Regions from separate parts of the Homo sapiens genome. Here region 1 is linked to region 2. Evidence: fine-mapped QTL for protein levels in blood plasma. A gene starts in region 2. The other region holds a variant in brackets. All regions are shown on one strand. Distances are between the middles of the regions.

The links. PIP is the posterior inclusion probability: the model's chance that the variant is causal. The UK Biobank Pharma Proteomics Project read protein levels with antibody pairs (Olink). The fine-mapping took linkage between variants from a reference panel, not from the people measured, so its PIPs are less certain.
Region 1: its variant is fine-mapped to the plasma level of the S100A13 protein (UK Biobank, PIP above 0.99).

The regions. Positions count from the first base shown.
Region 1 is chr1:153,436,722-153,439,630 of GRCh38, forward strand. It overlaps the pseudogene S100A7L2. Among named protein-coding and RNA genes, the nearest start is that of S100A7A, 22 kb to the left of the region's middle. The variant C/T (reference allele first, on the strand shown) is at 1,387.
Region 2 is chr1:153,625,209-153,628,099 of GRCh38, forward strand. It overlaps S100A13 (S100 calcium binding protein A13), which reads right to left and starts at 2,297. Exons shown (of 3, transcript NM_001024211.2): 1 at 2,275-2,297; 2 at 1,112-1,325. The coding sequence starts at 1,264. RefSeq lists an enhancer at 1,719-2,544.

The DNA.
Region 1 (2,909 bases), 190 kb before region 2:
AGGCAAGGGTTCCAGTTTACACCCTGATCTAGGCTCACCAAGCTAGGTAGGTAGGATGCGTCCTCCCAGGTGTGTGAGCACAGGTGAATCTCAAAGCCCAACAACCAAAAAAGAAGAGTGACCAAATCAGGATTCAGGACACTGTGGGGAGCACTCTGGAAGCAGACATTTGCTGGGGAGCATTTCTGTACCTAGTGGAGCATCTACAAAGCAGTTAACCAACAACTTCCTGTTCTGTCTAAGATACACACGGCCAAGGAAAAGGAGGAAGTATCTTGTGGGAGTAGATGCTTTATTGTCCATGGGGGTCTCCAGAGGCCCCTGGGTAGGGTGGGATCACTGGCTTCCCCCGGAACAGGGTGCCACTCCATGCATTATCTTGTGGTGGTCTATGGTTATATCCCCCAGCAAGGAAAGAAACTCAGAATAATTAACCTTCTTATCCTTATTATCATCTTTTTTCTCAAGGGCATTGGACAAGTAATCCATGTCGCTTTTTTCCTGCATGGAGAGAAACACGCAAGAAAGAAAAATGATATTTGAATTGGAAAAAGAGGAAAGAGGTATCCTGTGGTGTGAACATGACAAGTGGGTAAGTGGGACAGGAGTGGGTGGAAGAGAGAGAGCAGCATTGCTGGGTTGTTCCTGAGGAGTTCTCCATTGAGTGACTCCATGAGGAAAACACAGAGATTGGTGTCAGGCTCCGCCAGGAACCACACTGGTAAGGAGTGAGGGGCCTTCATTGGCCACAGACCCACAGACCCACCCACCTACCCACCTGTACAGGCGCTGTCTCCTTTCTCCCCAGGGGCCCAGCACAGGCTGACCGCCTTCCTTCTCTTACATGTTGACTCTTCTCCCATTCCATTTCTTTCCCATTCAAACTGTTAAGTGCCAGGTTCCCTTTCTTTAGGACCCAGTGCTCTATTCTCTCTTGTTATATTTTACTAATAAGAGTGATGCATTCTAACAGTGAAATAAAACCCAGTATATGAATAAGCTCTGCCAAATATAAAGGGTGGTGCTCATGTTATCAATATTCTGATTTCCATTGAGTTCCATCTTGACAAGCCTCCACTTGAACCTAGAGGAGTGACTCTCACAGAGGGACAAGGTTACGTTGGGCAGAAGAAACAAATGGCCAGAGCGTGTGTGTAACCTCTCCAGGTAACGTGGCAGGGGGCCCAGTGGCAGGACAGGAGCCCAGCATGTCTGATTCTCAGTTCCAGTCTCCATCTCTTGAATGGTTAGTCTCTCCACGGGGCTGGTCCTGCCTAAGGCTGGGACAGATGGATCAGTGAGGCATACCAGGCTCAGAATTACCCAATAAAAATAGTGAATTCAGCTCCCAGAGATGAGTCCTCAGACATGTCACAATGCACAGGA[C/T]CTGTCCAAGAATCACTACTCCATTGCCCCGCACAAATATAAAAGCTCTCCCAGCCAAGGGCGGGCAGAGTCCCCACTCACACAGCCACTGAGGAAGTTGGGGAAGTTCTCCTTCATCAAGTTCACCAGACCTGGCATGTCCATCCTACCATCATCTCCACTGTATTGGCGAAACATCGCGACTATGTCCAACATGACTTTCTCACCTAGAGGGATATTCATCTTTGCTTTCAAAAAGCCTTCAGGAAATAAAAACAATGATTGTTTTCCTTCTCTAGTGAATGACTGATATTAAGAAGATGAGAAGGGATTGAGGAGCAAATGAGGACGAGGCTAAGGTGGACCAGAGAAACCTGTGTTTCTCTGTGTGGTGGGATAAATTGCTTCCAAAGAGGAGGGTAGAGCCATACCTGGGATCTGGGCTCACACAGGCCGGGGAGCAACAGGAGAAGAGGAGACAAGCAGAAGCCCAGCTATGGGCCGTGCTTGTGAGAGGGAGAAGTAGGGAGAGATAGAGGCCAACAACACGTGGAAGAACTAAACCCTGAGCAGGGACCCCCAGCCACAGTCAGCACATGGCAGACTCCACTCCTCAAACAGCACCAAATCCATCTCCTCCAGCTTCACAGCCAGGGTGAGAGTCACAGGGGCAGGACAACGGCCTTGGTGATCTGGTGTCTGACCCTCCTGGGCTGCTTCAAGAACCAGACACCGTGGGCCCCACCTTGACTCAAGTGCAAGCCCTGCATGACACGGTGCATGCAGGCTCCAGGTGCACATATGAGCGTGGACATGAGTGTTAGCAGGAAACACAGCCCTGTCCCGAACACAGGGGGCCCTTCCTAGACCCTCACAGGAATGTGAAAGAGGCACGGGTGACCATAGCTAGCCTCTGTTAAAAAGAACAGAAATAACTCTCTGGTTCTTAAGCTGCTGGATGGGGTGGGAATGAGGTGGGGGTCCCTTCATGTCTGCTCTTGGGAATTATCTGCACCCTTTAAATCACCAAGGCTGGATGTTATTTAAATAAAAAGTTCTGATTTCCCAAAGCAGATCCTCCAGCCAATACTCAGTCTGGGCTGGCCTGCACCCCAAGCCTGAAAAATAGGACAGTGCAGTTCCCACTTCCCACACTTTCCAAAGAACCAGAAAATGACATTTGCTCATGCCTGTGGGCATCTGACAATAAACCCCTATCACCTCCCAAAGCAGGAGAAAGCTCTGTGCTGGCAACTCACTAAAAGGAGCCATCTAAAGCCTTTTTGAGTCTGAGGCCAAGGCCAGGGGCTGAGCCCTGTGCCCAGAGGGTGACTGAGAGTTTGCAGGTTGTAGTAGGGAGTGAGGGAGCTTTGGTTGCTCAATACCTTACCCAGGTAGGGGCAGATCATCTCACCAGGGCTATGCTGTGTGGAGGTCCCAGGCCTGGGGGTTCAGCAAGCCTCCAAAGTATTCTTAGGGGACTCTTAGCCCTCTGTGGGGGCAGACTTGGGGAAGGGATTCAGTACCCCAGACCCCAACAGGAG
Region 2 (2,891 bases):
AACAGAGTGAGAAACCCTGTCTCAAAAAAAAGTCTGAGAAGTTGGAAGTTGTAGGGGATTTTGCAGATGAAAGACCATGAGTTTCAGAGACTCACTGTGTTCAAGGAGTCCATATTCACACACTTCAACGTGCCTGTGGATTTTCAGAAAGGATGTAAAACAAACTGTCAACAGCCAGAATGACCAGGCCTCTTCGAGGCCAGAGTCGATGAAATTTAAGACCTGACTCCAGCCTGTGAGTGCGAGAGAAGGAATGACTCTTACACCCTAGTAAGGGGATGCCCATAGCGGGTAGGGAGTCTTCACAGATGCACCCACAGACCCCCTACACTGAGGTCTATGACTCCATGAATTTGGCTGTGTTTTCATTTTTGATAAGCCCCTTTCCACTGCTAGGCCTCAGTTTCCATATATGTGAAGTGAGGAATGCGGACTGTGTTTTCTCTTGGCCTCCTTCCAGCTCTGACAGTCTGTGAATCTCCTGGAAGCCAGCTCTGGGTCCAGTCCTGTCTTGGGGAAATTAGACCAGAAAGGCACAGAGCATACACAAGAACCCAACAGCATCTTCTGACACAAGACCATACTCCCACTGGCACATAGTATCTTTGCTTACCTAATTATATGCATGGACACACAAACACACACATGTACACACCAGGCAAGAAAACTCACAACCGGGTCAGGCGCAGTGGCTTGCGCCTGTAACCACAGCACTTTGGGAGGCCGAGGCGGGTGGATCACCTGAGGTCAGGAGTTCGAGACCAGCCTGGCCAACCTGGTGAAACCCTGTCTCTACTAAAAATACAGAAATAGGCTCGGCGTGGTGGCACACACCTGTAATCCCAGCTACTCAGGAGGCTGAGGCAGGAGAATCACTTGAACCCCGGAGATGGAGGTTGCAGTGAGCCAAGATCACACCACTGCACTCCGGCCTGGGCAACAGAGTGAGACTTTGTCTCGAAAAAACAAAAGAAAACCTGCAACCATTGACACATGCAGCCACCCACACCCTTTCTTGTGGTCACCTCACCGTACTCGGCACCATCACGTCCTAAACACAGTGTCCCATAATCATCATCTCACAAAATCTCAGTCCCAGACTTCTGCCTACCTTGAGCAGATGGGGCAACTGCTGGGTAACCAGCTCTTTGAACTCGTTGACGCTGAGGCTATCCTTCCGGCCCTCCTGCCTTGCAAAGGTGAAGAAGGTGGTGACCACGGTCTCAATGGACTCCTCTAGCTCTGTCAGTGGTTCTGCTGCCATTAGGACCCTGAGGCCAAAGCTGATGTCCTCAAGGGGCTAGCTGACCTTTGTCAGGGCTGACCTGTGGAAGAGAGAAGGAGCAGAGAGGGAGAGTCAGGGAGCCCCAAGATGCAGGAATGGTTCAGAAGGTCCCTGCCTTGGTGTTATCACATCAGTCTCAGCCTGGAGGGGGCATATGGGGAAAGAGGGAGAGGACAGGGGTTGAGCTTGGGGCAGCAGACCAGGCAACGGCATCTCAGTTTTGGTGGGGGCAGGAGATTCAGCTCCAGAAACCCCCTCTTCTGTAGGTCTCACAATCCGGGATCCTTTTTAAATGTCTGTGGCTTAGGGACCCCTCTGTGGTGATCCCTCGATCTGGAGACCCCTCTACTTGAGAGGAGGTCTTCAGTTGAAGGTCCTTCTTGGAGTCCTTCAAGTCTGGTGGCCCCTCTGTGGCGTGTCTGTCTCAAGAATCCCTTCTTGTCTCACCCAGACTCACAGGTCATAAGGTTGTTTGTCTCCAAAGCTTGTTTATGTTGGGCCCTGGTCTCCGGCCACTCGCATCCGCCCACACACACTCTAACCGCTCCTCCCAGCAGAGAAGCACAGGGTCTGGCAAATGTCCCCTGTGGTCAGAGCTGGCTCCGTCTGAACAGACCCATTTTCTCTGCCCCGCTCCACCCTTACCTCTCCTCAGCGGCAGCAGGGCAGAGTGCTGAACCCAGGACCCCACAGATCCTCCCCGCTCCTGTCTCCCGGTGACAAGGGTCCTGGAACGGGGCGTCTCTGACTCCCTGCTCCAGGACGGGTTTAGTACAGGCACTCACAACCCCCTGGGGTGCGGCGGGTGGGGCTGGAAGAGGCATTCTCTTTTCTGTCCACCCCGTCACACACTCCTGCACGCGCTGTTGCTCGATCATCCAAAGCTCCTTCCTGAATTCCTGTCTGAGCTGGCTCTGGGGGAGGGACCTGGGAGCCCAGGAAGAAAAAATGATCTCCAGCCTCCCTCCAGGGTCAGCCATGAGACTCACCCGGCAAGGAGATGGGGTAGAGTGAGCTGGAGCCTCAGGGCTGAGGTTTATAAGCAGCGGGGAAGGAGGAGAGAGCTGCTTCCAAGCCCGGAGGTGTCAAATTTCCGTGGTCGATTCTGAAGACCAGAGACAGCCCAATCAGGCCGCTTGCCCTGAGCCCTCAGGTCTGGACCCGGGCTCCCTGCCAGCCACACGAGCGCCCCCACTTGGTCAGGGAGAGGAGCTGCCTGGACAGATCTCGTTCGGCAGGGGTCCCAGGGTCCTAGTCCTCTCAATACTGGGGGCTGCTGCCACCATACCCATGTCTAATCAGGAGTGTGTATGCTGAGGGGGGAAGAGGGAGGCAACCAATCAAGGGAGCTCAACACTGAGAGGCCCAATCTGAGACACACACAGAGGCCCCTTGGAATGAGATCCCACAAAGGATGCTACAGACCAAGATCCCTCAGAGAACCCCAGGCTGAGGCCCCACACACAGAGGGGGATCCAGGTTGAGACCCCCAGAGAAGAGTCCTGGATTGAAATCCCTCTGTGGGTTCTCAGACTCCCAAGACTAAGTTTCTCACTGAGGGTCCTCTCAGTGAGGCCCCATGGAGGAGCCACAGACTAAGACCCCC